Homo sapiens: one gene and its partner. The protein of the gene in region 1 interacts with the protein of each later gene in a pairwise test. Each region holds a gene or a part of one and is shown in the gene's direction. Other genes may lie near its edges.

The links. Proteins that work in one complex are often made in the same cells at the same time.
Region 2: the proteins of PAQR6 (region 1) and CCR8 interact in a two-hybrid assay, tested with the Homo sapiens proteins (one large-scale study listed by BioGRID and IntAct).

What each region holds. Positions count from the first base shown.
Region 1 is NC_000001.11:156,245,257-156,249,313, reverse strand, and holds the start of PAQR6 (membrane progestin receptor delta), read left to right. Parts: upstream 1-1,257; 5' UTR 1,258-1,357; exon of another isoform or gene 1,358-1,399; intron 1,400-1,681; exon of another isoform or gene 1,682-1,804; intron 1,805-2,557; 5' UTR 2,558-2,582; coding exon 2,583-2,633; intron 2,634-3,063; coding exon 3,064-3,191; exon of another isoform or gene 3,192-3,326; coding exon 3,327-3,532; intron 3,533-3,652; coding exon 3,653-3,779; intron 3,780-4,057. UniProt on the Homo sapiens protein: Plasma membrane progesterone (P4) receptor coupled to G proteins. Seems to act through a G(s) mediated pathway. Involved in neurosteroid inhibition of apoptosis. May be involved in regulating rapid P4 signaling in the nervous system.
Region 2 is NC_000003.12:39,328,360-39,332,508, forward strand, and holds the start of CCR8 (C-C chemokine receptor type 8), read left to right. Parts: upstream 1-1,349; 5' UTR 1,350-1,470; intron 1,471-3,958; 5' UTR 3,959-3,972; coding exon 3,973-4,149.

The sequences.
Region 1 (4,057 bases):
GGAAATCCTGGGGTGAGTGGAGTCACCCCACTCCCAGTTGCTGGCAGAGACTGAGACTAAAGCATCACTTAATAAACCCCCCAAGCCCAATCCCTGTCTCCTGGTGCCTGTCTGTACAGAAGTTTCATTGGGGGGTGGGGCACTGAAGATGGCATCCTGAAATGCATTTTGGAAAGGCTTCTTTGAAGTGGATGGAACAGAACAAGAAGCAGGCAATTTGAGTGAAGGCCCTGGAGATGGTTTGATAGGCACTGTCAAGTTCCTTGACTGTAAACTGAGGCGGTGCCTTTGCAGGGGTGATAGTGAAAATCTCTTGCCAGCAACATCGCTGCCTGGGGTTGGTTCGCTGTCACTAGCTGGGTCCTCTTCCCCAAGGGGGTGGGGAGGTGAGCCTTGAAACCAGCCTCTGGCCAGGCGTAGTGGCTCACGCCTGTAATCCCAGCACTGGGAGGCTGAGGCGGGTGGATCACAAGGTCAGATCGAGACCATCCTGGCTAACACGGTGAAACCCCATCTCTACTAAAAATACAAAAAAAAATTAGCTGGGCATGGTGGCGGGTGCCTGTAGTCCCAGCTACTCGGGAGGCTGAGGCAGGAGAATGGCGTGAACCCGGGAGGCGAAGCTTGCAGTGAGCCAATATCGCGCCACTGCACTCCAGCTTGGGTGACAGAGCGAGACTCCACCTTAAAAAAAAAAAAAAAAAAACCAGCCTCTGAGTCCTCAAGTGCCTGTCCTGCAAGGATTGGCATCTCAAATTGTATTCGGGGGGGGGGGGGGGGGGAGGGGGAGGTGGTGAGCCTGGTGAATCCCCCATGATAGAACCAACATTTACCAAAGGCAGTTTGCTCTGAGCCCTAGGCAGCACCAGGTGCTAAGAGGCAGCAAAGCATGGTGAGAGATGGCTTCTGAAATCTGTTCTGCATTTGGGGATTTGGGTTCCTCTGCCAGCCTAAGGCAGAGCTGTCCCCAACTGCTGGGAGAACCTGGAACGGGAACACTGCTCTGAGTCGCCGGGGGGACTCTACAGCACCATGGCCACATCCTGCCTTGGGCCCCTACCCTGTTCTAGCCAGTCAGCACAGGGAGTTTGGGTCGTGCTGGAGGAGCTGGCTGTGTGCAGGCGGCCGAGTGAGCTGCCTGCTAATGGGGCTGGGCCACCCCGTGCTGCTCCCTGGAGGCTGGACAAGGCTGGGATTGTTCCCTGGCTCCCCTTTGTCTCCCCACTCCCCGCCCAGGCCTGGCCCGCCTGCCTGGCCACTCTTCCTCCATCAGCCTGGCTGGCAGCAGCCTTGGACTCCGCCCGTGGAGCCCTGGGCCTGTTGACCCACCAGCTTAGGAGCACCCACCAAGCTCTGGGTAAGGAAGCTCACCTTCTGGGGCTCTTCTGGGAAAATAGAGGTAAAGCATCTTGCTCCAGCCACCCCTCCCCCATTTCCATAGCAACTGCACACACTCCACTCCAGAGATCTCCAAACCCTACTACTAAGGGAAGGCACCGTGAGGGCAGCTAGACCCCAGCGTATTCCTCACTCCTCCCCCAGATAGATGGGCAGCACTCAGGGTAGGGGAGACCCCCGACCATCCCACTTGTGGGAGCGAGCAAGGGATACCCTGGGAGGCCCTCATCCATCTTTGTTCTGCTGGGGTGCAGGGACTAGGGCCAGGTTTGCCTTTGCCCAGCAGGGTCTCCAGCACCCATCTCGGGCAGAGGCTGGGGGAGTGACTGCTGGTGCAAGCCCCAAAGTGCATGCGGCAAAAACATGGATGCAGAGCTGGTGGCAAGAAGAGGGGCTAAGTTATAGAGTTGCTGCAAAGTTTTGGCCTGGGGAGGTGGGGGGAGTGTCCTAGTCCTCCTCCTGGGGCGGCTCCGCCTGCCCAGCTGGCCCAGCCCCTCCACTTGTGCCAAGGAATGTGCCGGGAGAGGCGGGCGGGGCAGCAGAGCTGCGGCCACCCGGAGGCAGTGCACAGGTCTGGGGCTGAGGGATACCTGGGCTCAGGAGGGGCAGGGACCCCAAAATTCTCCTGGGGGCACAAGTGTAGTCCTCAGAGAAAAGCCAGGCATCCCCCTACCTCCTTGTCCCACCTGATGGCATCTGGCTTCTCCAGAGATTCGGAGTGCCAAGAGTGTTCTGTGCTCAGTTCAGGCGCTGTGGGCGAAGCACATTCTGGTGGGAAAGGGAGTGGTACTCAGGCTGTCTCTGTGCTGGCCTCCAGGAGTCAGGATTCTTCCTGAGACAAAAACTGGGGCCTGCGGGGCTGGATCACTATTTGAGGCAGCCTCCCGGCTGGGAGGACCCCGCCACTCTTTGCTGGGCTGAGGCCGCCAAGCCCCTCAGTGTGGGGACTGAATGCCCCAAGGAGAACAGGGGTTGGAGTTAAGTGGTGCAAGGGCTGGGGAAGGTGGACCAGCTTCCCCAGGCCTGAAGGAAGCAGCTCCAGGAGGGAGGGTGCCATCTGCCTCCCACACGCACAGCCCATCCTGCGGCTGAACCCAGGTGAAAGGGGCCTGTGGATGGGGGCAGTTATCTGATCCCCTACCTCCCACTCTGTCTCTAGGTCAACGTGGAGGTACCAGGCCACCATGCTCAGTCTCAAGCTGCCCCAACTTCTTCAAGTCCACCAGGTCCCCCGGGTGAGGGGCTCCACCCACTGACCCACCAACCCCCATTCCCTAGAGGACTGACTAGGGGCTGACGTTCTTCTCTTTTAGCTATTGGGGCAGCCCCTCCTGCAGGCGAACTCTTACCCTCCCATTCCAGTGTGAGACTCTTCCTCTGTTCTCTGAGGAACAAGCTTGTGGCCCTCCATCTGGAGTCCCCTTCCCCAGAGCGCCCTGTGTGCTGCGCTCCACCCCCATCCCACCCCAATCTGGCTCTTCGGTTTCCTATTTGTTTTGTGGGTTGTGGGTACTGGGACCTGTGGTAACATCAGATCAGATTTAGTTTGGCTTGGGGGCCACGTTGATCTCCAGCCCAGCCTCTTTGACCCTGCTTCCAGAGATCTCAGATGGAGGGAAAGGGTCCGGGCACAGTGACGCCCTTCCTCTCCCACCACTACCCTAGGTGTTCTGGGAAGATGGCATCATGTCTGGCTACCGCCGCCCCACCAGCTCGGCTTTGGACTGTGTCCTCAGCTCCTTCCAGATGACCAACGAGACGGTCAACATCTGGACTCACTTCCTGCCCACCTGGTGAGGGGAGGCTCCGCCCCAGGCCGCGGCCTTGAGCTCAGAGGGGGTACCCAGGCGGGCAGGGACCGTCCAGGCCCACGGGCTGCAGCGGCAGTCGCGGGGGTCCGCGGCGGCCTGAGCACGCGCCCGCCGCAGGTACTTCCTGTGGCGGCTCCTGGCGCTGGCGGGCGGCCCCGGCTTCCGTGCGGAGCCGTACCACTGGCCGCTGCTGGTCTTCCTGCTGCCCGCCTGCCTCTACCCCTTCGCGTCGTGCTGCGCGCACACCTTCAGCTCCATGTCGCCCCGCATGCGCCACATCTGCTACTTCCTCGACTACGGCGCGCTCAGCCTCTACAGTCTGGGTGAGCCGGACAGGCGCGGGAGCGCGGGGTCTGGGCGTCCCGGAGCGGGGCGAGGGGTGGGACGCGGGACATAGGGGCGCGCCCCTCAGGCCTCAGCTGCACGCCCCCACCTCACCGCAGGCTGCGCCTTCCCCTATGCCGCCTACTCCATGCCGGCCTCCTGGCTGCACGGCCACCTGCACCAGTTCTTTGTGCCTGCCGCCGCACTCAACTCCTTCCTGTGCACCGGCCTCTCCTGCTACTCCCGGTGGGTTCCCAGGCCCCTCCAGTGGGGACGGGGAAGGCGGAGGCACAGGAGAGGACACACCTCACTGCTCTCGAACAGCACTGGAGGCATCGGGACCATGTACTGAGGACTTCCTCTGTCAGACCCTTTATCCCCACATACAGATGTGGTCCTTTACACAGGAGGTCATATGCCCTAACGGTTTTCTTAGCTGCAGGCTGTGCTGATATTCCATCTTTGCCCAAGTCCTCTTGCCTTTCTCTGACCCCTACCCCAAGCACAGCGATGGTGACCGGCCT
Region 2 (4,149 bases), on another chromosome or scaffold:
CAAGTGATCCTCCCACTTTAGCTTCCCAAGTAGCTGGGACTACAAGTGCATGCCACCATGCCTGGCTAATTTTATTTAAAAAATTTGTACAGATGATGCATTAGTCCGTTGTCACACTGCTATAAAGAAAGACCAAGATTGGATAATTTATAAAGGAAAGAGGTTAAATTGACTCACAGTTCTGCATTGCTGGGGAGGCCTCAAGAAACTTATAATCATGGTGGAAGGCAAAGGAGAAGCAGGCACATTTTTCACAGGTCGGCAGGATGGAGTGAGTGCAAGCAGGGAAAATGCCAGGTGTTTATAAAACCATCAGATCAGATCTCTTGAGACTCACTCACTATCATGAGAACAGCATGGGGGAAACTGCCCCCATGATCCAATTAACTCCACCTGGTCCCGCCCTTGACACATGGGGATTATGAGGATTATAATTCAAGATGAGATTTGGGTAGGGACACAGAGCCAAACCGTATGAGATGGGGTCTTGCTATGTTGACCAGTCTGGTCTTGAACTCCTAGGCTCAAGCAATCCTCCTGCCTCAGCCTCCCAAAATGCTGGAATTACAGATGTGAGCCACCGTACCTGGCATCCAGCAGATATTTCTACTGCATTTCTCCAGGAATGAGTGGGTTGGAGATGAGGAGATTCTGGAACTTCTGTCATTTCCTCCCAACAATTCTGGGACTCATGTTCACTCTCCTGGGATAGGGGAAACTGACTTAAAGTGATTTTCAAATGGCATTCCTGTTGAAAGAGTTAATATATGTACATGCATACAACATACACACACATTTGTGTATGCTACATACCATGGAGGAAAGCCAGTCCTGGTATAAATTGTATAACTTCAAAATAATAATGGAATTATGATTTCATTTTAATACTGATTTCAATTAAAAATTTTAATAGACTATTTTTTAGAGGTTTTAAGTTTACAGAAAATCTAGGTAGACAACACAGAAAATTCCCATTAACCCCTGTATTAGTCTGCTAGGACTTCCATAACAAAATACTACAGGCTGAGTAGCTTAAACAACAGAAATTTGTTTTCCCACAGTTCTGGAGGCTAGAAGACCAAGGTGCCCACAAGTCTGGTTTCTGGTGATGCCTATTTACCTTACTTGCAGATGGCTGCCTTCTCCCTGTGTCCTCACATGGCCTTTCCTCTGAGCACCTGGAGGCAAGAGAGTGAGCTCTGGTGTGTATTCCTCTACCTAGGAGACACCAGTCCTATTGAATTAGGGCCTCAGCCTTACGATCTCATTTAACCCTCATTGCCTCCCTTTAGGTGACTAGGTGTGAGGGTGGAGCCCTCAAGAGACTGCCTTCTCTCCATCTGCTGTTTGTAGTGGGAGGATACCTCCAGAGAGGCTGCTGCTCATTGAGCTGCACTCACATGAGGATACAGACTTTGTGAAGAAGGAATTGGCAACACTGAAACCTCCAGAACAAAGGCTGTCACTAAGGTATGTGCTACAAGCATCCTTGGGGAAGAAGGGCATGAGTAGGCAGGGGCATTTTTATATCTTTAGAGGATAGGCAAAGGGAAGACCAAAATTTCAGAGGTCTAGCACAAGAAGTAAAATTTTTTTTTAAATCTTTGCATTTCCTCAGAGCCCACAAACATGCATGTGTCTTAGTGGCTGCCCATGCTCTGGCTGAGGAGAGCAAACCGTGCCATATTCTCTGCAGGCCTTTAGGAGAGAGTGAAAACTCCTACAAGAGTGGGAAGGTAGATAAGAGAAGATCCTTTATAATACCAGGCATCTGGGAAGATCTGTCCTTGTGCTGGGTACAGGGCTTCTATCAGGTAACTGAAGGACACCTGGGTGCTGTTCTTAAGGAAAGAAGCCAGCGAGCAAACTTTCATATGACTAAAGAAGTTGCTGGTGGGTGCCTGTAGTCCCAGCTACTCAAGAGCCTGGGGCAGAAGGATTGCTTGCGCCCAGAAGTCAGGGCTTTGTGTGAGATCACACCTGCGTATAACTACTGTACTCCAGCTTGGGCAACATAGTGAGACCCTGTCTCTAAAAAAATAAATAAATTGCTTGCTTGCTTGCTTGTGCTTTCAAATCATAGAAAAGTAGCAGAGTGGAGAGGGGTGTCTGAATGTAAAGCAAACAAATGCCTTGGAAAAATATGTCTGGATTGAAATTGCATTGAATGTATATATCAATTTGAGAAGAATTGTCAAGTTTTATAATTTTTATGTAACTGAATTGCATTTTTATTAGTTTTATTCCTAGTAATGCTAGTAATTTTCATTGCTAGTATAATTGGGATCATTTTTCTATTGCATTTATAAAGTTATTTTTTTTCTGGTGCTTAGGAAAGCAATTAAAAGAATAAACTGATGAATATCATGCAGATATATCTCTAAAACAATAAGCAAAATACAAAGGGAAAAACAATATATCATTTATGTAAGTTAAAACAATATATCATTTATGTAAGTTAAAACACACAAAAATATATATTGTTTATGGATATATATAAATATGTAAAAGTACAGGGGGAAATTGTTTGGAATGATACATACCAAATTGGTTTTAGTTGTTGTTTCTGTTATGGGGATAAGTTGTGTAGTTAAAGGGAACATTAGCTTCATCTCTATTGCATCAGAAATAAAAAAAGAAAGAGGGATGGAAGGAAGAGAGGGAATGAGGGAGGGAGAAAAGAAGGGAGAAAAAAAGAAGGAAGGAAGGAAAAAAAAATAACCCAAAGCATTGTGAGAATATGTTAGCAGCTGCTAATTCTAGGTGATGGAACTATGGGTATTTACATTTTCTTTGTAAGTTTTGGCTTTTCTCATCTCAGCTGACTCCCTTTGGTTTACATAACAAAATACAATAGACTGAGTGGCTTAAACAACAGAAAGTGTTGTTTAACATACTTCTAAAGGCTGGAAGTCCAAGACCAAGCTGCCAATGCAGTTGATTTCTGGTGAGGCTTCTCTACCTGGCTTGCTGATTTCAGCCTTCTTGCTGTGTCCTCACATGGTCTTTACTCCATGCACAAGGGGAGCAAAATTTCTTGTGTCTCTTTCTCTTCTGTTAAGGACACTAGTTCTATCAGATTAGGGCCCTGCCTTTTTTGGTTTTGTTTCTGTTTTCTTTTTTTTGAGACAGAGTCTCACTCTGTCACCCAGGCTGGAGTACAGTGGCTTGATCTCGAGTCATTGCAACCCCTGCTTCCTGGGTTCAAGAAATTGTCGTGCCTCAGCCTCCCGAGGTAGCTTGGATTACAGGCATGTGGCACCATGCCTGGCTAATTTTTGTAATTTTAGTAGAGACGGGGTTTTGCACTGTTGGCCAGGCTTGTCTCGAACTCCTGGCCTCAAGCAATCCGCCTACCTTGGCCTCCCAAAGTGCTGGGATTACAGGTGTGAGTCACTGTGAGAGCCAGGGCCCTGCCTTTATAACCTCATTTAACCTTTTTTTTTTTTTTTTAATTTTAATTTTTTTTTTTTTTTTTGAGACAGAATCTCACTCTGTCGCCCAGGATGGAGTGCAGTGGTGTGATCTCGGCTCACAGCAACCTCCACCTCTTCGGTTCAAGTGATTCTTCTGCCTCAGCCTCCTGAGTAGCTAGGATTACAGGCATGCACCCGCCATGCCCGGCTAATTTTTGTATTTTTAGTAGAGACGGGGTTTCGCCATGTTGGCAAGGCTGGTCTTGAACCCCTGACCTCAGGTGATCTGCCCACCTTGGCCTCCCAAAGTGCTAGGATTACAGGCATGAGCCACAGCTCCCGGTCTATCATTTAACCTTAATTACATCTTTAAAGGCCCAAATAGTCTCACCCACTCCAAATAGTCACACCCACACCGGAGGTTGAGCACTTCAACACATGAATTTGGGGAGGACACAGTTCAGTCCATAACATCCCCCTAATTTTTAAAAAATAAAAATGTTTTTAAGGAGTGAATGTCTTTTATGTGTCTCTGTGACCAGGTCCCGCTGCCTTGATGGATTATACACTTGACCTCAGTGTGACAACAGTGACCGACTACTACTACCCTGATATCTTCTCAAGCCCCTGTGATGCGGAACTTATTCAGACAAATGGCAAGTTGCTCCTTGCTGTCTTTTATTGCCTCCTGTTTGTATTCAGTCTTCTGGGAAACAGCCTGGTCATCCTGGTC